Regions from separate parts of the Homo sapiens genome. Here all the other regions are reported to be linked to region 4. Evidence: microRNA targets listed by miRTarBase, many of them from high-throughput screens and not tested one by one. Region 4 holds a microRNA gene; each other region holds the end of a gene's coding sequence.

Region 1 (7,101 bases), not on the chromosome of region 4:
TCGGCGACAACCGGCAGCTGCGGACGCTGGCACCCGAGACCTTCCAGGGCCTGGTGAAGCTTCACGCCCTCTACCTCTACAAGTGTGGGCTCAGCGCCTTGCCGGCCGGCGTCTTTGGCGGCCTGCACAGCCTGCAGTACCTCTACCTGCAGGACAACCACATCGAGTACCTCCAGGACGACATCTTCGTGGACCTGGTCAACCTCAGCCACCTGTTTCTCCACGGCAACAAGCTGTGGAGTCTGGGCCCGGGCACCTTCCGGGGCCTGGTGAACCTGGACCGTCTTTTGCTGCACGAGAACCAGCTGCAGTGGGTCCACCACAAGGCGTTCCACGACCTCCGCAGGCTGACCACCCTCTTCCTCTTCAACAACAGCCTCTCGGAGCTGCAGGGTGAGTGCCTGGCCCCGCTGGGGGCCCTGGAGTTCCTCCGCCTCAACGGCAACCCCTGGGACTGTGGTTGTCGCGCGCGCTCCCTGTGGGAATGGCTGCAGAGGTTCCGGGGCTCCAGCTCCGCTGTCCCCTGTGTGTCCCCTGGGCTGCGGCACGGCCAGGACCTGAAGCTGCTGAGGGCCGAGGACTTCCGGAACTGCACGGGACCAGCGTCCCCGCACCAGATCAAGTCACACACGCTCACCACCACCGACAGGGCCGCCCGCAAGGAACACCACTCACCCCACGGCCCCACCAGGAGCAAGGGCCACCCGCACGGCCCCCGGCCCGGCCACAGGAAGCCGGGGAAGAACTGCACCAACCCCAGGAACCGCAATCAGATCTCTAAGGCGGGCGCCGGGAAACAGGCCCCCGAGCTGCCAGACTATGCCCCAGACTACCAGCACAAGTTCAGTTTTGACATCATGCCTACGGCCCGGCCCAAGAGGAAGGGCAAGTGTGCCCGCAGGACCCCCATCCGTGCCCCCAGCGGGGTGCAGCAGGCCTCCTCGGCCAGTTCCCTGGGGGCCTCCCTCCTGGCCTGGACACTGGGGCTGGCGGTCACTCTCCGCTGAGGACCCAGGGCGTCAGCACCCAGCACTGCCACATGTCCACCAAGGAACAGAATTTATTTTCTTCTTTTTTTAACAAGTGGAAGATCTGCTGGGTTTCAGGAAAAGGCTGGTAGAGCCTTCGGCTGCTGTCTGGACGTCTGGACCCTGCCATGTGGATTATAAACCCAAAGTGTACAGCCCTAGGCGGGAGGGGGTGGCGCTTCTCAGCCGGCTGTCCCAGCCAGCCCCGCAGAGCGCCCACGGACAGTGTCCACTCTGGCAAGGTGGGAAAAGGCACTCCAAGTGCATCCTCCACTGGCAACAGTGGGACAATTGCCCCCGACGGCGGCACCGGGGCTCTGTGGAATCCCGATCGTTCCGAGAGGTCTGGAGGGCCCCGTGGTTCCTGGAGAAAGCAGGACGCAGAGAAGAACAAATGAGGCTCACCCACGAGGCTGGGTGGCCAGCAGTCTGGGCACACACGAGCAGGTGGCATCTTGGCTCTTGCCTGAGGCCAGTCACCCTGCCCTGAATTCTATCCTACTCCACCTTCAGCCCCTCCCTCGGGGGTAGCGCCTCTCATTCCTGATGTCTCAGGCAACCCTGGCAGACCCAGGTCCAACTGCTGGGGTCCAAGAACCAATTACCAAAGGAAAGATCATCAGAGGCTGAAATCTAGAACTTCATCCCGGGCAATGAGGTTCTCACAGAAGGTGCAGTTTTATAACTAACTACGTCCACTTATATATATTCACACTCTACATATATATATATATATATATATATATATATATATATATATATACACAAATGCACAGTCCCCCTCCCACTCCGTTACCTAACTGTACGTCTTTTCATGTTTATAAACTATACAGAAAACTGTATTTGCTGAACTAAGGATTGTATTGGTGATTTCTAGCAAAAACAAAGTGATAGAATTTTTGTCTAGAATCCCAAACTGGCAACGATAGTCTCCAAGGGACCTGGCCTTGCCAAGGGCCTGGGGCAAGGTGTCGGCGGGACGGTGAGGAAGGGGGAGGCAGCAAGAGTCACTTTGGGGGACCAATATTCTTAGATATTTAGAGCATCACCTTGTTTTTATATGCAACACAAGCCTGTCTGCCACCCTGGAGCGCCCTGTCACCCCTGCTGTCGTAGCTGTTGGCTTCAGGGTGAGAAGTGAGAAGCAGCTTATTGTATATGAGGGAGCCAGGCCCCGAGGGTGAGCGAGATGGAGAAGGGGAAGGAAGGGGCTTTGGGATCTGGAAACCAGCAGGCCAGGCAGCATCCACAGTGTTAGTCCAAAGGGTCGGACCGTGTCGTCAGCCTAGCGTTTGGTCAGTGACGGCCTGGACGGGCCAAGGAGACTCCGGGCTTGAGCCCAGGCCTCCCGCACGGCTCAGCTGCTGAATTTTTCCTTGAGGCTGTTTGGTGTGTGACCCAGCAAGGGCCCTGTGTGGGACAGCAGGAGGGAGGCGTCGGGGGCCTTAGCAGAAGGGGAACAATGAGGGCATTTCATGAACCATCTCAGGCACTTCTGCATCACGGAAGACCTGGCCCTCCCAGCCGTCCTGGGGATGCTCAGGGTGCAGGCAGAGGCTCGGGAGGCCGGACTCAGGGGTCAGAAGCAGGGACTGGGGCAGGCGAGCCCGGACAGGGAAGAGGGGCTCCGATCAAAGCCGGCCGTGCTGCTGGCCGGGGGCCCAGGTGGGTACAAGCTCCTTTGTGCTTTGCACAAACCTGAATCCCCCACCAGAGAGGATGTGTGTGAGGAGCCAGAAACGCTGAATCCAATTAAGAGAGAAAAATAATAATAACAATAAATGATCTTGGACAAGAACCCTGTTTTTCATTTCCTAACCCCGCATTCCCGACAGGTGGCAGATCCTGGGCTTCTGTGGGTGGGCGAGCCTGGCCGGGCACAGCTCTGGGAACACAGCACATTTGTTGGCGGGAGGAGCCGCAGGGGGCAGGGGCGCACTGATTCACGGGACACATGAGAGCACGCACACCCTGGTGCTCCGTTTCGTGGCACTTCCCTTGCCCGCACAGATCATGATTCACTTTCCACATTCTGACTGCCCCGGGTCGGCACCATCTCCGTGGCTCTCCCCGGAGGAGGCTGGTCCTGGGTCCTTCCTGGCCTATTCCCGGGAGTCTCCGGAGCAATGGCTAAGTGACTGATCCTCAGGGCGCCCGGCAGGCGGCTGGTGGGGACGGGCGGCTGCAAGGAAACAGTCAGTACCTGGGGCCCAAGGAGTTTTCCAGGAGGCTAGGGACCCACCCGGACAGCTGTGGGTGGGCTTGGAGACTGCACACGTCTCTCTGGCTTCAGAGAAAGGAGAGGGTTCCCCGGATAGAGGGAGGAAGGCTGTGTTTTCAGGCCTGGCTGGACAAATCCTCCTCAGTATGAGGCTTGGGGCATTCACTAAAGGGAGCCCAGTGACTGCAGACCAAAGAATCCTCAGCCTGCACCTGCTCCCCTGTGGCCTGCAGGCTCTGACCCAGGCCGAGGTGCTAGGGCCTGGCTGTCCCTTAGAACCCAAGGATGTTGTTGTGTTGTTGATTTCATTTCCAGCTTCAGACAGCAAGGCCCTCAGTGGGAAAATCAAGAGTCTAAGCACTTTATTAATTTTTTTTTTAAAAAAAGACTTAGGAAGTCCTGTAATATGGAAGTGAAATGTCAGTACGAGAAATGCTAATGTTTTATAAATGATCCGCTTCTGTCAAGCACAGCACAGTCTCTGGTTGCCGACTGTTATTAGAGGCAAGGCAGTGGGGGCCCAGGACGCCAGGTATTTTTAGCAGCTTTCTCCTCTAAGAGGTAGGGGGAATCAAGGCAGCTCTGTTGCAGACGACATCAGTTGTCACTCAGCAGCTCATGCTACGCAGTTATGATGACACCATCGCCCCAAACATCAAAGCAACTGGACGCGTCAGGGGCGAGGCAAAAGCTTCTCTATTCGCCAGCTCCAGCCCCTTGCGTCTGGTTCAGGGCATGGAGATGCAGATTCCTGTGGTCTTCCCAGAGGCGGGGGCCACCCCTCCGCTGCCATCTTCCCACTTTCCCTGGACCCCCAGAGGGAGTCATCTCTTCTCCCTCCCAGCCCTCCTGCCACACAGGCCTCCACTGTGGACTGATGGGGACAGAGCCACCCCTGTTGGAGGGGCTGGGTGGCCACTGGTGGTCTCCACTGTGGACTGACGGGGACAGAGCCACCCCTGTTGGAGGGGCTGGGTGGCCACTGAAGGCCTCCACTGTGGACTGATGGGGACAGAGCCACCCCTGTCGGAGGGGCTGGATGGCCACTGGTGGTCTCTAAGGCCTTTCACACAAGCTCCTCCCCTGACCCCAGAGCTTGGCTGGCTCTGCATAGTTCATTCAACAAGGGCTGATCAGGGACCTCCGTGTCCAGCCACTGGCCAGGCTCTGGGGACATAAACGTGAGAAGACGTGGCTCGGGGCAAAAGGAGCTCAGAGCCTAGATGTAGAAACAAGTATTCGCAACTGGTATGGAGTTGGCGCTTGTGGTAGCACCCCTCGGCCCCCAAAATGAGGAGCTCAGCTGGGTGGGGGCAGTCAGAGAGGGCTTCCAGGCAGAGGTGACACTCCAATGAGTCTTGGAGGATGAGGAGCCACCCAGAGAAGAGTGTGGGGAGTAGGGCTAGAGGTGGTAACAGCACTGTGTCTGGGGTATCCACAAACCACTCCCAGCTGAGGGCATGGGAGACGCGCCCTGTATGGGAGCGGCCCAGGGGACTCTGCTCAGGGACTCCACTCTGCCGTGGAAGTGGAGGGGCTGTGCGGTCCCCCCGACCTGGTCGTCCTCCCGCCCACCCCCCCCAGCCTGTCCATAGGCACGTGGTTTCTGACCGTGGCAACCTTGCCGCGGTTCTTCAACAGTGGGTTTCATGGTGGAAACTTGCCTCCTGGGCTCAGCCAGATCCTCCCCTGGTGCCAGCAAGCTGGAGCGCTCGCTGGAAGTCTGCCTGGGCCACAGGCCCATTCCCAGACACCTGCTGCTTCCAAGCTTGGGAAGCATTCCACGGCCTGCGCTCCCTGCTTCCCAGCCGCGGCCGCCCTCAGCCCCTCCTGACTTCGGAGCAGCTCAGATCACCCCGGCGCTTCTGCCTGTGCGGGCTGTGACCATCAGCCAGCCCCAGAGCCCCTCCCACCAACCGCACCCCTCCTCTCCTGCCGGGGCTGTTCTTTGCAAAAGCCAAGAATCCCATTTAGCAAATGTTTACTCATCACCCAGCTAATCACCAGCGCTCTGCCGCCACGGTGAATGGGCTCCAGGAAGGCCTGTGAGCAGGTTGGGGGGAGCGGGAGAGCCCGGGAGGCCTCGTGGAGGGCAAGCTGCAGGGACTGGGGTCAGAGGGAAGGAGTTTGCTGCGGAGGCTCCCTGGAGCCACCGAGCCCTCAGCAAATTCCCCTGGACATGCACGCCCGCTTCCCAGGCAGGCCCCACCAGCCCATGAGCCGACCCACCTCTCTGCCAGGGACCCAGCTCCTCCGGGCCCTACTCTATGCTGACCTAGGGAGGCAGTCTTTCTCTGCGTTTATTTGTCCTACTCTATGCTGACCTAGGGAGGCAGTCTTTCTCTGCGTTTATTTGTAGCCTCCTGAGGCTCAAACAATCCTCCTGCCTCAGCCTCCTGATTAGCTGGGACTACAGGGACACACCACCATACCAGGCTAATTGTTTTATTATTTATTTATTTATTTATTTTTTGAGACAGAGTCTTGCTCTGTCGCCCAGGATGGAGTGCAGTGGCGCGATCTTGGCTCACTGCAACCTCCACCTCCCGGGTTCAAGCGATTCTCCTGTCTCAGCCTCCCAAGAACCTGGGATTACAGGAGCAAGCCACCGTGCACGGCTAATTTTTGTATTTTTAATAGAGATGGGTTTTCTCTACATTGGCCAGGCTAGTCTCGAACTCCTGACCTCATGGGATCCACTTGCCTCAGCCTCCCAAAGTGCTGGGATTGTAGGTGCGAGCCACCACGCCCAGCTAATTTTTTAACTTTTTAGTAGAGATAGGGTTTCACCATGTTGGCCAGGCTGGTCTCGAACTCCTGACCTCAAGAGATCCGCCCACCTCGGCCTCCCAAAGTGCTGGGATTACAGGCTGGGCCAGCGCACCTGGCTGGTGTTCATTCTTTGAGGAGGGGTGGGTGCATGCTTTGATGGAGTCCCTTCCAGCCCCCGTTCTGAAGCCTCCTGACCCGGTTCAGCTCCCCGCCTTGCCCTCTAACTTCACTTTCCTCTAAGCAGGAGTTCAGCCATCAGCCGCGACTCCATCCCCATCACCAATCCCCCACTATCAGCTCGTAATGGGCCAATTTTCTTTTACCTTCTGTCTACTTGGAAAATATCTCAAGAACCTTTGATTGTGCGTTAAAATATCCTTTAGAATTCTATGCTCGGTATCTTTCTGCTCCTCTAATTGTCCCTTTTAACTCACCGTGCTTTCCGTATAAATCTCCCGGTCTCCTCCTTCCCAGGCTGTTAATAAATATGAGCTCTAAAAAAATACATAAACATCTATTGTTGGCTAAATAACTCACGGCACAATCAAAAAGCCGGGAAAAGAAGAGAGGCTCGGCGCGTCGCATGGCCACCTGAGCACCCTCCCTCGCGCGGTCCTGCCGGTCTCTCCAGAGAGGGCTGCTGAAGGCAGGGGAGTCTGGGCCCTGAAGAGCCCATGAGGTGAAGGGACCCTGGGGGAGAAAAGGAAGCGAGGCAGAGAGAGTAGCTGTACTACCAGGGGGACAGGGCTCTCTCCAAGAGCGCCGAGTGAGGGGTTTGGACAAAGGAGACCCTCGTGCAGGGAGCAGCGGCTGGTTTAAGTGGCATTTCAGTGGGCTGGCCGCCAAGGCCCCTCACCACCACAAGAAGTGGGTCAGCCTCCTCTGACACCAGCGCCAGCCCACAAGGAGGGGGCCCGCCCCCATCTCTCTCCTCTCTGCCCTCATTTCTCATTAGAGCCGTTAGTTTCTAAGCTCCAGGAGGGTGGGGAAGGATGTGCCTTTGTGTCACCGATTCCTGTGTGGCAGCGTGCACACTAATGGCATGCCTGAACGGCAGAATTTGACATTGCTGCTGCAAGA
Region 2 (7,123 bases), not on the chromosome of region 4:
GATTCCTTGCAGGCAAATGAAAGCCCCTCCAGTTTTATGATTTCATTGTATTATGATTTCTCATGCAAATTACAAAAGGAAGCCTGTTGTTTAGAAGGAGCACAGATTCCTGATACTAAGATGATTAGAAATTTCCCTTGAGGTGTTTCATAGAGAAGCGACTTTATCATATATTGAACAATGTTCCCAGTAACAGCCTGAGGGTAAACAGTGTTTCAGTTTATAAGGCTGTTTCAGCATCTTTCAATATAGGTTGGTACTATCACACTAATATGTAATTTTGTAACAGCAATCCTGTAAGCGAGCAAAAAGATAAGGTTCTCTTTTCTAGCTTGGACTAGGAGTAGACTGCATAGCATGGTCTTTGAACAGTCCTCTGTAAATGATATTTCTCTCTCTGGACTGAGCTTTCCATAGGCATTAGATGGCATCATTCCTGGAGCACAGCAGCCACAGCCATCTTAACAGACAGCTGAGCTGAAAATAGTGTTTTCTTCCTATGAAAATTAAAGGGCCTTAAAATACATCTCTTAAGACATAGCCTATTTTAGTAACATTTCTCTACATATACACTGTCACAAATAAGTGGTACCTGTGTGTGTGTATGTTTTTCCCCCTAGGCTTTACGTATTTCTACAAAGGAAAGGAGTATTGGAAATTCAACAACCAGATACTCAAGGTAGAACCTGGATATCCAAGATCCATCCTCAAGGATTTTATGGGCTGTGATGGACCAACAGACAGAGTTAAAGAAGGACACAGCCCACCAGATGATGTAGACATTGTCATCAAACTGGACAACACAGCCAGCACTGTGAAAGCCATAGCTATTGTCATTCCCTGCATCTTGGCCTTATGCCTCCTTGTATTGGTTTACACTGTGTTCCAGTTCAAGAGGAAAGGAACACCCCGCCACATACTGTACTGTAAACGCTCTATGCAAGAGTGGGTGTGATGTAGGGTTTTTTCTTCTTTCTTTCTTTTGCAGGAGTTTGTGGTAACTTGAGATTCAAGACAAGAGCTGTTATGCTGTTTCCTAGCTAGGAGCAGGCTTGTGGCAGCCTGATTCGGGGCTGACCTTTCAAACCCAGAGGGTTGCTGGTCCTGCACATGAGTGGAAATACACTCATGGGGAAGCTTCCATGATGCACAGTATCTGCTGTTCTTCAGTCCTTTGTCTTTCTTTGTCATTCAGTTCTAGGCCTTTCCTCTGCACGCTCAATGCCCAGTAAAATTTCAGGATTAACTAAAGAAGAGGAGAAAAAGAAGAAAAGATTCTTCTTAAAAGTTTCTAATGTTATTTTCCTTCTGAAGTCTGAGCCCATTTCTGGGGGGAGAAAAAAAAAGCAAATCAGAAAACCCACGGTTTTTCTTTTTTTCTTTTTTTCTTTTTTTCTTTTTTTGCTTTAAAACAAAGGGAAAAAAGAGTTTAAACAAAAAACCCACAATTGAACTTCCAGGAAAGTGTGAAGACCCAAAACAGCTTTGTCTCCAAAGAAGATAGCTCTCTGACTGCTTTGGATAGTCTCCTACGCACCATTTTGTCAGGTGGGAGATTTGGAATACACATGCAGGACGTTAGACTGTTGGGACAGCCATTTTCCAACAACCAAGGGGCCAAAATATCTGCAATATAGTAACAGCCTTAATAATACATCCATTTTTCGTTTTATACAGCTGTTCTCAGCTATGTCCTCAGTGTTTCATCGCATTTATATTCATAGCTATTTTCAAACACGACCTTTTAATTGTTTTTGAAGTATTTCTAAACCCCTTCTTTCCACCTTACTCCTCCATCATTGTGATAATCTTCCCAAGTTGTATTAGGCCATTGCCCCAGGCCTTCCATGGGTCTGTCAGGAATATTCGTTACAAAGCAGAGCAAGAAGCAGTATGTCTCTGAAGTGGATTACAGTGGCAGTTATTTTACAAGGATTTGTGACACTAGTAACATACCCGTGTAACCCTTTGAGAACTATCAGACCAGCTTTCAGAGTCTTAGGATTGTCGGTCTTGCGATCTGATAAATTATAGAACTGGGCAATGGTAAAAACAGTCACAAGTTCAAGAAGTTCAGGTTTTTAAAACAGATATCCTATAATGTCATATAATTTTTAAATGATTTACAAGACTACATAAATGTGTTTATAACAAACAGAAATGATGTTACTTGCCAAAATTTTTCTGGCAAATAAAAAAGGTATTTTATTAAGATTCTCATAAATCTGAAATTTTATTTGAAAAACTGATAATAGCCTAAGTCTTCTTTTCTTTTTTTTAGGCATACTGAATTTCTGTTTTAAAATCCATTGCATGAAAATTCAATTTGCCTTGGTATATGCAGTTAGCATTGCCATTTTAAAAATGAATTAAAACGGTGACTCTGAAGTTGCATGAATATCCTCCAGTGCATTACCTATTGCATGTCCACCATAGTTCTCAAAGGGTTAGTGTGGCTTCTGGCATTTAGCCGTCCATTTGATCACTGACAGAGCCAAGAGACCACCAAAGCATTTCATTGTTGAGTGTAATTTGTCCTAACAGCAGTATTGTCATTTTCATGTGACCTGCAGAGCAGGTTTGTATCAATATTTTTTTCCTAGAGAAAAGTCAGCAACTGACAGACCTCTTTATTGATTTTTAGGAGCTGCTTCTTGCAGTGAAAGGCTTTACAGCCACTGGGCTGTGAACTTATTAGAGATGGTCAGAATGAATGCACCCCATGAGTCAGACATTGGCTTTGTGTGAAAGCCAGCTTTGAGGGGATTAGCTTTTGAAACAATGAACAGCTTGCCTTGAACTTGATTATTGATCTATTGACTGTCATTAACAACAACTTAAACATTGTCTTCTGTGAAAATTTTCCTTGAAGAGTCCTGTTCTATGTCTTTGCCCTTTGACCTTTAACTTGCAAACTGGCACAAACTGAAGGAAATCTGGTGTTGCTTCTCCATTGGATTAGTTGTTCTCTAAAACCTAGTAAGCATGAGCTGTTTCCTTAGAGTGGAGAGAGTGGTGATGGCAGATCTGCAGATGGACACTTTGCTCTTTACATGCACACTCTGAAAATGCCCTATAGGTAGAAGTGAATTTTAATTTCATTTTAATATAATTTCAAGTCTAAATTCATCATTTTAGTACAAATTACAAAAACTATAGGAAAAAAAAAACCTCAAATACTTGAATGGCCAGTGTGGCTTTTATATAAAGCAGGAATTTTATACTAGTAAAAATTTCTTACTCATTTGCTAATACACATTTCCAGATGATTTTTAATGAGTGTAGGTATACATTCTTATTTGGAAATGGATAGTTTGGCTGCCTTGAATTTATATTTATACTCAACGTAGCATGAAAATTAGAATGCCTTTTGGTTAAACTACATGTTTATGATTTGGTTGGGGAAAATATTTTATAATTGTGGGTGGCATGCTGCAAAGCCTTGCAGATTGTTATTTCTTACAACCTGAGCGTATATAGTATGAGCCTAAGAAAAAAGAAGAGTAAGAAAAGAAGAATGGCTTTACAGTAAAATATCATACAATGCAGACAATATTTTAAGAGGATATTGGAGATTATGTACGCAAGGGCCAAGAAAGCAAGAAATGAGAACCAGAGTCAGCCCTGTAGCTTTACTTCAGTGCTTCCATTCTAGATGATGCTGATATTATAAAGAGTTAGTCACTGCTGCTAAGCATGGAGGACTATATACATAAGCTCGTTTATACAGTGTTTGCTTGTGGGAGGGTTTAATCCTTTTAGGGCCTTGATGTCAAGAAAAAAATAACTGGAAACTATATTTTGCTAAAGATAGAAATGAGGAACTGTGTCATTTTGGGACATGTGCAAATCATTGAGGAACTCCATCACCCTGCATTGAAAATTGATTTTTTTTTCCTCTAAAATGAGAAAGAAACTGAATAAGCAATCTGTTGCCTCTTTACTCATTCATCACAATATCCTGATTCGTCATAAGGCTATCAGTATATAAGGGCTAGAAAATAATCATAGCATTAAGAAGGAAGGAGTCTATCATTATGCTTGAATTCTGGCAAATGTCATGAATAAGGGTTGGGTCATATTTACTTTAATATGAGACAAGATTTATGTGATAAGCAAAGGCATATAAGGCTGCTCTTTTGAACAGAACATTTCAGTTATCAGGCTGTACTATTACAAGAGATAAGAAGACAATAAGGACAATGTAATCACAAACAGTGGGATTCCATTTGTTTATTGTACACCAGCTACTTTGTGGGTATGGTTCCTGACTCCTCTTCTACATGAGGTTTGGGAAAAAAGTCTCAAACCAAATGGAACAGTGAAAGGGAAAGTAATTCATCTAGCACATAAGAATAGTGATTCAAAACCAATGCAGAATAAATTTCCATGGGTCAATAACATAAGGTGTCAGTTCAGTGTTACTAGAGATATGCAAGGCATAAAATATTTTCATCACCCCATCACTAATAACATGAAAAGCTCAGACATAGGATTTCCCAAATTGAAATGAAAACACATTCATGCCTGCAAAAATAATTCTCCTTCTGCTTCATTTCTCATTACTTTATCTAATATAAACACAAATGTAAACAAGGTAATGGTCTTCATGTAAAATGACCATATAGTTAAGAATTTTAGTAAAATATTGTTGTTCTGTGTATTATTAAACAAATGCAATGAAGTATTAAAATAGCTGATCAGTTTGAATTTCCTGTAAAGCAGTAATTCCGCATCAGAATTGTAGATAAGGTTGTGAATTTATTGACTCATTTCAGAACAGTGTCTGTTGACATGGCAGTCAGAGCAGGTGAATACAGATGCTCTTTCTGATTGCAAAGGTTATAGAGCTAAATTAGACAGCATTATGTGATACTAGCAAAGACAACTTCTGTTATAAATCAGAGGGCAAGGCTTTTCTGAATCGATGTGATAAATTACTAAGTAATGATTACCAAAAATAATTACTAAGTAATAAAAGATACAGACTGGTTTACTGAAATAAGCAAGTGTTACATTTAATAATTACCTATAATCTTTTTTTGTTAACACATAAGCAAGTGTTACCTTTAATAATTACCTATAATCTTTTTTTGTTAACACATAATTTGGCCATTTCATATACTGTGTACCTATTTTCATTCCCTCTCTGTGGGTCATTAAAAAACACAATGTGGTGGATAAGAACATTGTCCAAACTTCACTGCTAGTTCCAATACATAGATGATGGTGTGTAAACTGGATTGTAGGGGTAGTCATATTTGCAAGTTCTACATGTTATGCTAATATATCTAGTATGGTACACATACACGCCCACACTTTGTGGATCTTACAGTGGAATAAATAGTGTGTCCATATTAACTAAACTCAAAGTGCTATCTGAAGAGGAATGGATGTTATAAGCAGACAGACAGACTGAGTTAAACTGAGTCATGAAAAAATATATATTTTAAAGTTTTTGGAATCATTTCCAGAAACTAATAAAGGGAATTATTTACTGGTAGTATTGAGTCTGTGAGATTGTAGTATATACTGAAACAATCTTCTGGATGGTGGTAAGGTCTTTTTTAGCAAACACAGTAAAGAGCTTATTTCATTTCTGATGCTTTCAAGGGCATATTCCAAAGTATCACAGATGTCAAATAGAATATGCTATATAAACCAAAAATGTGCATTTCAGATGACCTATTACAGCAATCTCAGCCAATATGTAATATCACAAAATGTGTCAAGTCAATCATATAAGAGGATCTAATCATTCGGCTGTATTTCATGTACCTTCATGTTGTTGATATATTGTGACCACAGGAAATAGGTGCCAGAGCATATGCAGTTAAGTTACAGGCTCCACGTTGCCTAGGAGGGAATCATAACTACATCAGAAAATTTTTAACAGTTATATCTTAAAAATTAGAATTTTATGTAATAAATAAAGCGGCAACCAGGAATAGCAACGCAACAAATATGAAAGCTAATTATTATATTTAGCTTTCATATTTATATAATATGATGGAAATGGAGGAGGAAAAATGAGTCTTTTGTTAAATATAAAGACAAACTATAACACTCCTTGATAATACAACTGGAAATTTTACTTTAGCAAGCATAAAATAGTGGAGGAAAAAAATCCAACTTCAAGCTCTTTGCACTAGTGATGATTATGTGATATATCAATGTAATATTTAGCCAGTGGTCATTAGATGTTACTGTGCTTAAACACATCTGATACTCATGCATTGCCTTACAGGCTAAAAATGTAAGAGGTAGGTGTTCAGTAACCTCAAGTTGGAAAGATATATAATGTTAGAATCCCCTGAGACAAGCCATTTCCCTGAAATAGAAATTTACCTCAATACTCATGTAATCTAAGACACTTGGCGTAGTAGCAAAGAAGTTGCCTTCATGTTCTAGTCTCATCTAATTGTGACCTTTGTCTTTCATGTACTTCTGAAATCATTTTCCACTTTTTCCACTGGTGTGATTTTGAAACAATTCTGAAATATTTCAGGTAAGATTAATAACATCCAATTACAAATATATGTTTCAATATTTTATACGTATGTCTACTTTGAAAGTTAAACCAATAGTATAGAAAGCCTAAGAATGAACACTGATTGGACATACTCACAGAAATTAAGGGAAAAACACATATTGTAAAATTCCTGTCAATGTTTGAGTAGAATACAGAAGTACATAGCAGTCTTCAATTTTTAAACACAATTATGGGCTTATAACTGGACGTGACATGCATCATTTATTAGAACAATATTATTTATTTATACTAAGTAAGGATATAAGATCACAGAAGCTTAGTGTTATAACGGAGACTTCACAGACATTCATAACTAATGTTTTCTAAGGCAAATAAGGGCATAAACCAGAACTCATGGTCAGTGCAGAGTAAGTATAAAAAGTTATGTATGAAAGACATTTATTTATAGAGATTTCTGAGGATTCTATGCCTTTTCAACTTAAAGATGAGTGTGTCTTAGAATTTGTTTTATGCATCATTGGACTGGGGATGATATTCAAATGTGCACTCAGCGTGTCCTCACATTAAAGGGCACATTGAACAGTATAGGAAAATACATCATAAACTAGAATGTTGTACAGATTCATATAA
Region 3 (7,123 bases), not on the chromosome of region 4:
GAGAGAGCTAGAGGAGGGGAATCCCTAAGTCTGGGTATGGGCTGGCACAAGTCCTGGGCTCAGGCCTAAGCCGCACATGCACAGGCAGATACAGAGAAGTGAACAGAGTCTTTGAAACTTGAAGTGGTGCCACCGGGACCACCACCACAGAAGGGGAGACAGTTTGTCATCTGAACTTAACTGAATTGGTTGTCTGCTTACAATCAGTCTTCTCCAGGGATTTTAACAAGTTGCAGACTCTTGGGACTTGGTATTCAAAACATCCAGAATATGATCCAACATTACTAGATGCGCAAGCAACCAGGTAAGTATGACCTATTCACAAGGAAAAAGACAACCAACACATGTCATTCCAAAAATGACTCAGATCTTGGATCATCAGACAACAACTTAAAACAACTTTTATAACTGTGCTCTTAAGATGAAAACAAAGGGCCAGGCGCAGTGGCTCATGTCTGTAATCCCATCACCTTGGGAGGCCAAGGCGGGTGGACCACCTGAGGTTGAGCGTTCGAGACCAGTCTGGCCAACATGGTGAAACCCTGTCTCTACTAAAAATACACAAAAATTAGCCGGGCGTGGTGATGCACATCTGTAATCTCAGCTACTCGGGAGGTTGAGGCAGGAGAATTGCTTGAACCTGGGAGGCGGAGGTTGCAGTGTGCAAAGATCGCAGTCTGGGTGACAGAGTGAGACTCTGCCTAAAAAAAAAGAAAGAAAGAAGTTATTGATGGAGACCCAGAAGCTATGAAAATTAAGAATTCTAGAACTGAAAAAATTATATTTCTGAAGTTAAAAAATGTAATGGATGGACTTACTAGCAGAATGGAAATAACAAAAGAAAGAGTCAGTGAATTGAAGACAGATCAGTAGAAATTAACCAGAGGACACTGAGAAAATGGATTAAACAGAATGAATAGAACTTCAGGATCCTGGGAGACAACACCAGAAAATCACGTATTTTTTGACACTAGAGTCTCAGAGGGAAAAGAGAAATTGGTGCAGACACAAAAAAAGTTTTTAGAAATAACTGCTGAAAACTTCTTAAATTTGACAAACAATATAAATACACATTCAAGAAACTCAGCAAAATCCAAAGAAGATGCTCAGCATATCATAATCGAACTGCTGAAAACCAAAGATTGAAAGAATCCTGAAAGTAGCCAGAAAAAAACCCAACACATTCGGTATAGGGAAGAACAATTTGAAATACGGGTTATCTCAGACATATAATAAAAAATCATGTAGGCCAGGATGCAGTGGAACAATACCTTTAAAGCACTCATAGGAAAGAATCATCCATCCAAAATTCTATACCCAGTGCCAATATTCTTCAGGAATATGGACTTCCTGAAGAATCCTAAAATATGTCCACAAATTAATTGGAGATCCTCTCTTCAGAAGCTGGGGCCTAATTCCCCTCCCCTTGAGTGTGAGCCAGAATTAGGACTGACTTTTAATGAATAGACTATATCAGAAGTGACATTTCATGATTCTGAAATTTTAGTTATTATGGTGAACACCAGTCCCCTGACAACATGGTTCAAATTTGAGTTACCAGAATATATTAACTGTAATTGCATGAAGTTCAAACTTTCTGCTAGCTCCCCAGTCCACAAATCACTACATAATAACACAGGTACATCATGATCAGTGACCAATCATGCCTCTTCTTTCCAAAACCTACGGGTGATTGGTCACTGTGCATCTGTGTTCATTTCACGCACAGACAGCAAAGTGTGAATTGTGTGGCCTCCTTGTCTTCCAGTGATAAACCCACATGGCATTTTTACACAAATGGATATTCAAAAGAGAAAACTGACAAATAAAGATAGAAATGCAGCAAAGAAACTCAAACTGAAAACACTGAACGTGAATGCAAATCAAACATAAATGGGGTCACTGAAGAAACAGACTATGGGGATGCTGGCACTGCTGCCGAGAAGGTGAATTCCTCAAATAAATGAAGAAAGCGGTTGTGATGAAAAGGATGAAGATGTTCCAGAGGAAGGAACGTCAGCAAAAACCTTCACGTTAAAGGGACTTGGAGATATTTCATGACATTGAAAGCAAAAAGGATAAAATATTGGAAGCTGATCCAAACTTAGAAGGGGCATGACAAGTTTTTGAACACAGAAAAGGTGCTCCCTCTATATCATAAGGTACATGACTTTTGAAGAAGGCAAGCACTGTTTAAATGTCTGTTGATGGTTTTTTTAGGAAGACATCAAGCACTTTAATTCCCTGTGTTGCTAATGTTTTAAATTACAGTGTACAAAAATATTTACTTTATTGTTTCCTTATACATTTCTAACAGTACAAGATTATCAATGTTTTGACAATTTTCAAAAGACAGGAAAAAAATCACAATTTTACCCATTAATGATTATGAACAGCACATGGCAGTTTCAGGTTGGAAGGTCATTTTTACAGTTCTGAACTGCTGTGCAGTGAGGACTGTCTGTTTTATGTTGGGAGACTCTGTGTTCTGCTAAAATTCCCTGAAGAATGTTTCTTTTTTTTCTGTTTTGTCAGGCAATCAGCCTCGTTAGCCTTAGTCTGCAGGTCCTGCGTTGCCTTCTGTTTGGTGGTGGTGGTCCGAGTGTCAGTTCAGAGTGTGGCTGTGTTGCCTGGGCTCTGTCTCTTGTATGTGCAGCTCTGGGCTGAGCACGGAATTCAGCTCATGTACAGAATTAGAGAATCCTCTTTTCAGGTCTTTGCTCTTCAGGATTTCCCCCCAGACTCCCTGGCACCCAGGGGGCCCCTTTTCCTCATCCTCTGGCTTAGAAAGATGGGCTTTCTCTCTGATGATTACCTGCCTACACTGCCTGCTCATTTTGCCAAAAGGAACGCCCCTCAGGCAGAAAGCAGAGAGAGAAAAAAAGATGGATTATTTCCACATTCTTCAGACCATAGGGTCATTTTTTCCTGCTCCTCTGGCTGGAAAGACAGGTTTTCTCTCAGGGGAATTTTTTTGTTTGTTTTTGTTTTTGTTTTTTGAGACGGAGTTTTGCTCTTGCTGTCCAGGCTGGAGTGCAATGGCGCGATCTCGGCTCACTGCAACCTCCACCTCCCAGGTTCAAGCGATTCTCCTGCCTCAGCCTCCCGAGTAGCTGGAATTATAGGCATGCACCACCACGCCCAGCTAATTTTGTGTTTTTAGTAGAGACAGGGTTTCTCCATGTTGGTCAGGCTGGTCTTGAACTCCTGACTTCAGGTGATCCACCCGTCTTGGCCTCCCAAAGTGCTGGGATGACAGGCGTGAGCCACCGTGTCCAGCCTGACTAGGGTCATCTTTAGGTCAGGACTGAGAGAGAAAAAGTTTAAAAAAGGAAAAAAGCAAGGGATTATAGCCACACTTTCTAGCTTGCCGGGCCCCCATTTACCAGAATGTTTTAAGAAAGTTCCAGACTGTTTTCCCATCAGCTGTGTATGAGGGTTCCAGTTCTTCCACATCCTTCTCAGCAAACAAGTTAACCATATTTGGCACAGGATTTCTAGACCTGTAGGTTACGGAAATGTCACAGTATGTTTTGAGGCCAGTAAGGAGTTCTGCTTTTTTTTTTTTTTCCTGAGACGGAGTTTCGCTCTTGTTGCCCAGGCTGGAGTGCAATGGTGCGATCTCGGCTCACCGCAACCTCCGCCTCCCAGGTTCAAGGGATTCTTCTGCCTCAGCCTCCCTAGTAGCTGGGATTACAGGCATGTGCCACCACGCCTAGCTGATTTTGTATTTTTAGTAGAGACAGGGTTTCTCCATGTTTGTCAGGCTGGTCTTGAACTCCCGACCTCAGGTGATCCACCCGCCTCGGCCTCCCAAAGTGCTGGGATTACAGGAATGAGCCACTGCACCCGGCCAGTTCTGCATTTCTTAAGAGAATCTTTGTGAGAAGATGTAGATATTGGCTTCATAATAATAAAGTGAATTTGTGGTATTAAATAAATGGAAAAAAAGACAAACGGTACAAATTAAAAGTTCTTGAGATGTTTGGGCTGACCATGAAGGGATCCATTATCTGAAGAGTGGCTTAAGATTTAGAAGGCATAGCTCTACAGTCTCTTTGTCTTCTAAGGGCAGGGCATCTTCTATCTTCTAGGACAGGGTACAGTAAGTCTTACCAAACATGTAAGACATGTTATTTGGGGATATTCAGCATTCCTTTTCCCTTCCTAAAGGTACTCAGGTTTCTTTCTCAGAAATTGTATATATTCATCCCTGAAAGGTCTGAGAAAAAATAAAAAAAAATTGTGTATAGTTTTGGTGAGATCGTCAATCCAGGAACCTGTTTCCCCATATTAAAGTCAAAGGAACTATACTGTTTTCACTGCCAGGCTGGGGACTCTTAGTACCTAAGTTTGGTCCATTCTACTCTTTTTCATGACTTTGAATCTTGAGCAAATGACTACAGTAAGAGTGGGGTTCATTCATGTCATCAACAGCATCCCAGCTGTATTGTTAAAAGTACCTGTCATTCTTAGTTCCCACCCAGTCTTAATCCTGGTTCTCCAACTTTCATAAAAATCGTTGTTTTTTTTTTTTTTTTTTTTTTTTGAGACAAGGCCTCACTCTGTTGCCCAGGCTGGAGTGCAAGTGGTGTAATCTGGGCTCACTCCAACCTCCACCACCTTGGCTCAAGTAGTCTTCCCACCTCAGCCTCCTGAGAAGATGGGACTACAGGTGCACACCTCACCTGGCTAATTTTTGGATTTTTTGTAGACAATGGGTTTCATCATGTTGCCTCAAGAAAAATAACATCATGGTAATACTAAGTCTTTTATCAGTGACATGTAACTGATTTTAAAATATTATATAGTGCTTCCTAGTTTAACCAAACTGGAGGCATGTTTTATATGATGGGCTGATGTCTCATGAATAACTGTGCCAAAATCCTCACTTCTGAGTGCACTGATGCAGTAGATGGATGTCTCAGATCCCTCAGCTCCCAGATTGGGCCAACTCTCCTTATACCACCACACCTGGGACCTGGGAGGAATGGGGAAGGGGACTTTATAGGGCAGAGCTTTCCCAGACTCTTGTTCCACCCTAAGGATAAAGTATTACAGTAACTTTCTTCCTGCCTTCCAGAGGCACTTTCATTCTTCCTGGAGCTCTCGTCAACCCTGACCTCTTCCTTTGTCAGCAAGGTCAAACGCCTGAGCCACAAGTCTTAGCTGTTTCCAGAAGGGTGATTGTGTGCTCCCACCTATATCTGAGGTCCTAGACTCCTCAGAGGAAGTCAGCTTCATGTGATCTAGGTTACTCAAGCCTGGGGCTAGTGTTTTCATATTCTGGTATGAGAGACTTGCTTCCTCTGGAAAGATCTTTATGGTTTACACAAATGTAACAGACCACTTAACAATAGCTAGTCTCTAAAATGTACATCTTAAAATGGCTTTATACTTACGGGAATTCCTAATTAAAAAAAAAACTCACTTGATTTATATCACATTGTAAAATATAGTTTACTTCAAAAGATGATCCTGAAGATCCCATCACAGAGTGTTTAAGGGATGATTATAAACTTTTAGCCCTTAAGAGAGAATATATATACTCAACTGAGTACTGTCTTTCAAAGCAGTCCCTGTCAGTTTGTCCATTGATTCCATAGCAGCTCTCACTGCCCACCCTGCTTGAGAAGCCTCTTGGAGTTGCCTAGAGAGTCTATAGCACTCATCTGAAGGCCCTCCATGAGAACAACTCTTCTCTTCCACATAGATATTTTTGCATCAGCCCAAAGCTATTTGGACACAAGTTTGGTGAACACGGTAAGAAAAAAACAAACCAAGCAACAAAAACAAAAAGCAGGCAGTGCTGTGTTAGACTGAAAGTAAAAGATAAAAACTCTAAGAACCTATGAAGCGCCAGGGCAGTGCTGGTTGCTTTCACCCATATGGTCTCCTTTGGTGTTCTGCTGGTGCTTATGAAGCAGTATCCCTACTGACAATGACCCTAGCTTAAGAGGGCTGAGAACTGCTGAAAGTGAAGCTGTTTATAAATGGTACAGTCAGGACCGACAGACACATGGGTGTGGTATGACTGCAAAGTACCTGTGGAATTCAGATGGGATTACCATCCCCACTATAAAGGGCAATATGATCTGTTGCAGGAGGGTTTATAGGGTACTTAGTTACACAGGTCACACTGATCCCCTTTTCCTCTTTTTTTCTATGCAAGTATCTATTTGTCTATATGTCTGTCTACCTTGGTAGGTTGGGCTCCTTGAAGAAGGGTTATGTTTTCTTCATCTCCATATCCCCAGTAGCTGGCCAATGCCCAGTATACACCAGGGGCTCAGTCGCTGTTTGTCTTATTTTCTTGTTGACTCTACTCTGACTTAGGACATATCACTTTCCTCTCTTGACCTTCACATTCAGATGTGTTAATAAAAGTGGATAAAGACCACTCTAGCTTTAAAACACCCTCCAATATAGAGAGAACTCTGAAACCAGAAGCAGAAGCTGAGGAATGGTGAATAGAGCATTTTCCCTCACACGATGGGTATCAGGGTGGTTTCTTGTCCTTTCAATGCCTCTGCAGAACTTGACCCTAGTTTTTCAAATTGGACTCAAGAATGATCTTAGTGTTGGTGGTTTTGTGGTTTTCTTTGAGACTTTGTTATTGACAGAACAGCTTCTGGAAATCTGAAAAGAAAAAAAAAAAGGTAGTTTATATATTAGTTTGGAATATGAAATGTATTTTGTCATGGTCTCCAGAGTCCGAATATTGATCTCTGTGGAGCTCTCCTACCCTCTGCTACTGCTGATAACTCATAGTACTGGAGAGATAGCAGAGCCTGAAGACCAAAAAACTCAACTGCCGATACACGGCTGCAGTGTGGTCAGTTACTGATCTACCATTTATGAAGCAGGCCTACAGATGTGTGTGTTCTTCTGGGTAATTTAAATTGACAATTAATTAACAGGGCTGGTGCTAGGTAAACATTATAGGTTAGAATCCCTAGTGTGGATTAATTTGCTCTCTTCCATGATCGCAGACTCCCTGCTTAGCTCCAGTCTGCTGGTCTCCCAACATCTGCTAATGATTACATGGGCAGCATTAAGGTCTCTTATTACCTTGTTTGAAAAACTGGAAACTCATCTGTTATTGTTGGTGGTTAGATACCTC
Region 4 (7,123 bases):
AGAGACTTGAGAAAAGAAAGAAACACAAAGACAAAGTATAGAGAAAGAAAAGCGGGCCCAGGGGACCGGCGCTCAACATACAGAGGACCGCGCCGGCACCGGTCTCTGAGTTCCCTCAGTATTTATTGATCATTATCTCTACCATCTCTGAGAGGGGGATGTGGCAGGACAATAGAGTAATATTGGGGAGAGGGTCAGCAGGAAAACATATGAACAAATGTCTCTGCATCATAAACAAGGTAAAGAAAAAAGTGCTGTGCTTTTGAGGTGCATATACATAAACATCTCAGTGCCTTAAAGAGCAGTATTGCCTCCAGCATGTCTCACCTCCAGCCCTAAGGCGGTTTTCTCCTATCTCAGTAGATGGAATATACAATCGGGTTTTACACCCAGACATTCCATTGCCCAGGGACAAGCAGGAGACAGATGCCTTCCTCTTATCTCAACTGCAAAGAGGCCTTCCTCTTTCACTAATCCTCCTCGGCACAGACCCTTTACAGGTGTTGGGCTGGGGGACGGTAAGGTCTTTCCCTTCCCATGAGGCCATATTTCAGACTATCACATGGGGAGAAACCTTGGACAATACCTGGCTTTCGTAGGCAGAGGTCCCTGCGGCCTTCCGCTGTGTTTTGTGTCCCTGGGTACTTGAGAGTAGGGAGTGGTGATGACTTTTAACAAGCATGCTGCCTTCAAGCATTTGTTTAACAAAGCACATCCTGCATAGCCCTAAATCCATTAAGCCTTGAGTCCACACAGCACATGTTTTTGCGAGCACAGGGTTGGGGGTAGGGTTACAGATTAACAGCATCTCAAGGCAGAAGAATTTTTCTTAGTACAGAACAAAATGGAGTCTCTTATGTCTACTTCTTTCTACATAGACACAGTAACAGTCTGATCTCTCTTTCTTTTCCCCACAAGTATTTCAATTCAGAGTTCTTTTGGATTCCTTCAGACTACTCTAGACTCACTTCAAGCAACTGTATCTCAAAGAAGGAACTGTTTTATATATTTTATTACTAAAACATACTATTTAACCCTCAGAATATTCTATCTAAATGTCTTTACTAACTTATCCAATTAGCCTGAAGTCACTTTTTTTTTTTCAGGGAAAAAGATGCAGTAAGGTTTTGAAGACATATTTATAGTACATAAATTGTAACAGTGTTTACTTTAGACCATCTCCAAGGTTAGAGAAATGTGAACAGAACTGTCAGAAGAGTCCCACATGTTTATTTATTCTGACAAAAACATGGATGTGTATGGCCGTGGATCTTTTGTGGTGATCCTATATACAACTGTAACAAATCATCCCAAAACATGATGAAAGTTAATCCTAGGCATTGTAATGTTCTTTTTCAGTCAATAGCTACCTTACTCATTTTTTTTGTTTGTTTAATTTAAGGTACACAGAAATTCTACAAGATGAGCCTTTTCACTCTTATAAAGTAAAATAACTGAGGTAGAGACATTAAGATACCAGCTAACACCCAACAGCTTGCAACTAGGGGAACTGGGTTTCAAAATAAGATAACTCTATCGCCAAACATTGTACTTCATTTTCTAATCATTTCTAAGTAAAGGATTCATAAGGACATTGTTAAGAAAAATAACCCTGCCTTTTAGAAAAAGTTTATATACAATAACACATGGACAAGTTATTACCATGAAATGAAGAACACACTTTGAAAATGGGGTAATGGTGGGTAATTGTTAGATATTTTTTTCTATGTTGTTATGGATTATGCAAAAATAAGATAATGAGAATACATTAATACTTTAAAGATCATAATTCATTAAAATACTAAAAGATATTCACTATATGTTCTTCAGTTATCAAATATTAAATTTAATATACCCCATCATTTCAGATCAAGGATGATGACAAATCATTGCATAGTTGAACATAGATGCCGATGATTGTGGAACAATAGAGAACATAAGCCAGGTATCATGCAAGAAGCATAAAGAGTAGAAGGAAATCCTAGACCTAGTTCATTAATTTGGAAAATTAAAAAGGCATATGATAAAAAGAAATATATTACATCACCTGTATATTACCAGAGCTATGATTATCCAAAAGAAAAGGAAAAAACATCTACATTTATGAAAGCAGAAGCAGTACAAATAAATAAACATATATTTATTTATTTCTATTCTATAAACTGGATAATGTACGTAACTCTACCATGTATATTAGGGTAATTAAGCTCATGAAATCATTTAAATGAAAGTGGATTTTCAAATATTAGACTAGAAAATAATTAAAAATGTGTACTTAGCCCTATAAGTTTTGAGTTCTAGTTGATGAGACAGAAATACTTTTAAAATTTATGAAGTATCCACATTAATATGAAGTAACATTTATTTTACCTTATTGGAATTCTAAACTTTCAGAGTCTTAAGCATGATTTTTCTTTTCTAATGCAATGAGCTCTTTTAATTACAATCATTGTTAAATAAGAATACTAATATATATGGCATTTCCCAAGGTTACTCTGCTTATAACTTTAAAATTTAGCTGTTGCCAAAAAAAAAAATTTCAGCTCAATTTAAATTTCTTTTGTGACAGCTTTTATCTGCTCACCACTGCTTTCTTATGGCAATCATAAATTCTCAATGCGAAGCAAAGCACTGTTCTGCTTTCCTCAAACAAAAGGGAAACTCATCATGTGTTTTATTTTAAGAAGAGCAACATACTTCTCAGGCATTTATTATCTGTATGTCCTCAGGTTTTGTGACAAAAAAGCTATACACACAAACACATCCATGTATGTATAGAAATGTAATTGGAAACATATCAATTTTTTCTAGCCAGTAGATACACCTTCGGACGTCTTGAACTTAAAATGAAAAATTAAAGAAAAACTACATTGCAAACTCTCCATTGTCTCTGGGGTTCTTAGCTCATTTTCTCTGATAAAACCATGGGCATGGACAATTAAGAAATTAAGATGTGACCAATGATACAATAACATCCTGAAAATTGTACAGTAAGCCATCTGACCCTTAGAAACTTGTGTGCAAGTGTGTTTATCTTTGTAGATAGATCTTAATTAAATTACCTGGATCAAAGCTTAACGTATACTAAATTGCCACTCATGAATTATTGTCACACATTCTTGAGACACGGCTTTACAAATTTATATCCTTAAAAACCTAGATTGGAGTGCCTTCTTCACACATCCATGTCTAATATGGATCATGTTGAGTATCTTTGGATATATTAATTTTGCAATTTAATTTCAGAAAAAAGTAGTATAACACTATTGTTTTGATTTATATTTTTCTAATTGCAAAAGTTTTCTAATTTTCATGTATGTATTGGTAATTTGCATTCTATTCCTATAGAATTGTATATATTTTATTTTGTAATTTAGTATTGCTTCTTAAAAATAAATATTGACATTGTATATCATTTCGTTACATATATTGTATGTTTTCCTAATCCATCATGCATCACATACTTTGTTTTCCATATAAATTGTCATATATGTTTATTAACTAACTCATAAATACTCATATCTGTCACCATTTTTTAATGCTTTCTTGTGTTTTGTCATGTTTAGGAACACTTTCCCCACAATTCACAATACTATCTGACAGGTGTTAGTATACCTGTCAGTGTTCTTGGTTGTAGATGACTGAAATCCATTCCAATTGACCTAAACCAGGTAATAGATTATATTGGATAAATCATATAATTATTGGAAGGCTAAAGAAACAGGCTCAGAACAGGGCAGCCCCATGGAAACCAGGTTCCAGAATGGCAGTAAAATCCCCCCACAGGAACAGTCTGATGAGATAGCGCTGCTGCCACCGTGGCACTTCCTCCCCTAGGGCCTGGGATATTTGATGGTTAATTTCTGTACCTCTGTGATGAATACATACTTGTTTGTTTCTTACTGTTTTTACTTCTTGCTTCTGTTTCAAATTTCTCCCCGAAGCCATCTGTTTTAGTTTCCTCAGGCTGCCATAACAGATTAGCATAAAACAAATGGCTAAAAGAACAGAAATGTATTCTCCCCCAGTTCTAGAAGCCAGTTCAAACTCGGGTGTCGGCAGGATTGCATTTAATCCAGGATTCTAGGAGACAATTCTTTCTTATCTCTTCCAGTTCCTGGTAGCTCCAGATGTTTCTTGGAGCTACACTTGGCTATTTAAAGTTAATTTTAATGTTTAATTAACTAAACATTAAAATAATTAAAAAGTCAGTCCCTCCATTGTGTTAGCTGTATTTGAAATACTCAAAGGCACATGTGGCTACAGGCTACTATATTGGACTATGCAAGGGTAGAACACGTGTTATCACACAATGGTCTCTTGCACAGTATTGCTCTAGAATATTCCCTGGACAGAAAAGTTTTACCTGTGGGGCATTAAACAACAAAGAGCCTTACAATTGCCTCTGACTTGTATAGTAAAGCCAACAGTTGTTTGTTGTCATCGTCAGAAAAGTTGATTCCATATTTGAATATGGTTTCACTGCTTGTCATGCTTGGCCAATGCCACAAACCATGGATTAACTGATGGCCTTCTCCACTCTCATGGCTATTCACCCCCAACAATAGAACTTATTTCTTTCATGTTGCCTCATATGGCAGAATCCCCTTCTATTTTAAGGCTGAATAATATTTCATGGTCATATACATATATACACACACACAGTCATGCATTGCTTAACAGGGAAATGTACCTTAAGGCAATTTTATCATTGTTTGAACATCATGGAGTGTCCTTATCCAAACCTAGATGGTATTGAGTGGATGCTGTTATATATACAGCCATGCACTCTGTAGTTTGGGTACACAGTGCATGGCTGTATATATAACACTATCCATTCATCTTTCAGCAGGACTTTTTTTTGGTCACAACCCTGCTAACCAAAACAGGATCTGGCCAGAGAGCATGAAGTGAAGAAACTGATAGGAAGTGGCAGATGTCAACAAAAGCAATCTCTAACTACTCATTGCAATTTAATTGTCATGGTGCTGGTGGTAGTGTCTTATGCTAATGAGCAATATGAGCAGCCTGGCAACACAACCCAGAAGTTACCACCTCTTTCCATGGCAACAACCTAAAAGTTACTGCCCCTGCCTTAGAAAGTTCTAAACAACCTGCCCCTCAATTTGCATTGGCTCACCCCTCAATTTGCATGCATTTGACCTGCCTTAGAAAGTTCTAAACAACCTGCCCCTCAATTTGCATTGGCTCACCCCTCAATTTGCATGCAATTGAATGTGGGTCTCGCTGAGTATAAATACCGTTGCCAAGAGACCATATGTTGCTGACTCTGATTGCACTGCCTATGATTTAGCCCTGCTCTGCAAGGAGCAGTACCATTCAATAAACGATTGCTAAGACTCCTAGCTCATCCTTGAATTTTTTCCGGGGTTAAGCAAGAAATCCTCCCTGGCTAAGCCCCAGTTTGGGGCCTTGCCTGTCCCACAGCAGTGTAACGTACTACACACTTAGACAATATGACATAGACTGTATCTCCTAGGCTACAACTCTGTATAGCTTATTATTATACTGAATGCTATAGGCAATTGTAACACAATAGCATCCGTACATCTAAACATACCAAAACAAAGAAAAATTACACTAAAAACACAGTATCGTAATCTTATTGGACCACATTTATATATGTGGTTTTTTGTTGACTGATGCAATACACAGTGCATGGCTGTATATGTAACACTATCAGTCACCATTCAATGAGCAATTAGGTCGTTTCTATACTTTATTGCTACTAACACTACAATGAAATACATATGGATAAACCTAGAGGGCATTAAGCTAAGTAACTCTTACTTCTAAGATTTCTACCTTAAAGAGTCATATTTATGGCCTTTACTTGAGGTAAACTTCAGAAGCCATTTGTTGTGGATTAGGTAACGTGTGGAGAAATTGCTTTGTTGGGTTTTTCTTCCTTTGCATTTTAGTTTACACATATTAATTGTATGTATTTATAATCTGCAGAGTGATATTTTGATAAATGTATATGAAGTGTAATGATCAAATCAGAGTAATTAGGATAAACATCACCTCAAACATTTATCATTTCTTCATGTTTGGAATATTCCAAATCTCTTCTAGTTTTTTTAATATACACTATAAATTATTATTAACTATGCTTACCCTATAGTGCTATAGAACACTAGAACTTATTCCTCCTGTCTAGCTGTGACTTTGTATCCATTAATCAACCTTTCTCTGTCTTTAATAACATTATCAAACTGTGATTACCATAATTCTACTCTATACTTCTATAAGCTCATTTTTTAACTCCCACATATGAGAGAACATGCAGTGTTTATCTTTCTGTGCCTGACTTATCTCACCTAACATAATACCTTCCAGGTTTATCTGTGAATGGCAGAATGACAGAATTTTATTTTTCATGACTGGATATTATTGTATTGTATATATATGCCACAATTTCCTCAACTGTTCATCTTTTAAAGAACATTTAGCTTGATTCCTTATCTTGGCTATCACGAATAGTGCTGCAATAAATATGGAGATACAGATACGTCTTCTATAATTGATTTATTTTCTTTGGGTAAATACCTAGTAATGGGATTGCTATATCATATGGTGGTTTTATTTTTAGTTTTTTGAGGAACTTCCATACTATTTTCCATAATTACTGAACTAATTTGCATTTCCATTAACAGTGTACAAAACACAAGACTTGCTTTTTCTCCACATCCTTGCCAGCATGTTACTTTTTTTTTTGAGGCAGAGTATCAGGTCTCGCTCTGTTGCCCAGGCTGGAGTTCAATGGCGTGACCTTGGCTCACTGCAACCTCTGCCTCTTGGGATCAGGCAATTCTTCTGCCTCAGCCTCCCAAGTAGCTGGACTACAGGTACGTGCAACCACATCCGGCTAATTTTTTGTATTTTCAGTAGAGACGGAGTTTCACCATGTTAACCAGGCTGGTCTCGAACTCCTGACCTCAGGTGATCCGCCAGCCTCAGTCTACCAAAGTGCTGGGATTACAGGCTTGAGGCACTGCGCCTGGCTGCTTTTTTTCTTTTTATTATAGCCATTCTATTATATACACTTCCCTGATCATTAGTGATGTTGAGCAGTTTTTCATGTATCTGTTGGCCATCTTTA

The links. Region 4 holds the annotated microRNA hsa-miR-5011-5p (UAUAUAUACAGCCAUGCACUC, at 4,771-4,791, shown strand). A microRNA usually pairs through its seed, bases 2 to 8, with sites in the 3' UTR of a target mRNA and lowers its output. Matches are read on the target gene's strand: a 7mer-m8 pairs with bases 2 to 8, a 7mer-A1 pairs with bases 2 to 7 and ends in A, and an 8mer does both.
Region 1: miRTarBase lists RTN4RL1 as a target of hsa-miR-5011-5p. Seed matches in the 3' UTR shown: 8mer at 1,729-1,736, 7mer-m8 at 1,731-1,737, 7mer-A1 at 1,749-1,755, 8mer at 1,750-1,757, 8mer at 1,752-1,759, 8mer at 1,754-1,761 and 15 more.
Region 2: miRTarBase lists MMP16 as a target of hsa-miR-5011-5p. Seed matches in the 3' UTR shown: 7mer-A1 at 5,441-5,447, 7mer-m8 at 5,442-5,448 and 7mer-A1 at 6,294-6,300.
Region 3: miRTarBase lists FAM120AOS as a target of hsa-miR-5011-5p. Seed matches in the 3' UTR shown: 8mer at 5,541-5,548, 7mer-m8 at 5,540-5,546 and 7mer-A1 at 4,201-4,207.

What each region holds. Positions count from the first base shown.
Region 1 is chr17:1,930,402-1,937,502 of GRCh38, reverse strand. RTN4RL1 (reticulon 4 receptor like 1) reads left to right here. Exons shown (of 2, transcript NM_178568.4): 2 at 1-2,826. The coding sequence ends at 1,007. Among named protein-coding and RNA genes, the nearest start is that of RTN4RL1-AS1, 84 kb to the left of the region's middle. RefSeq lists enhancers at 4,721-5,285, 5,286-5,851.
Region 2 is chr8:88,035,293-88,042,415 of GRCh38, reverse strand. MMP16 (matrix metallopeptidase 16) reads left to right here. Exons shown (of 10, transcript NM_005941.5): 10 at 621-7,123. The coding sequence ends at 955. Among named protein-coding and RNA genes, the nearest start is that of DCAF4L2, 160 kb to the right of the region's middle.
Region 3 is chr9:93,441,059-93,448,181 of GRCh38, forward strand. It overlaps FAM120AOS (family with sequence similarity 120 member A opposite strand), which reads right to left. Exons shown (of 3, transcript NM_198841.4): 3 at 2,274-6,639. The coding sequence ends at 6,553. Among named protein-coding and RNA genes, the nearest start is that of FAM120A, 7.1 kb to the right of the region's middle.
Region 4 is chr18:67,076,837-67,083,959 of GRCh38, forward strand. MIR5011 (microRNA 5011) reads left to right here and starts at 4,748; the gene lies at 4,748-4,850.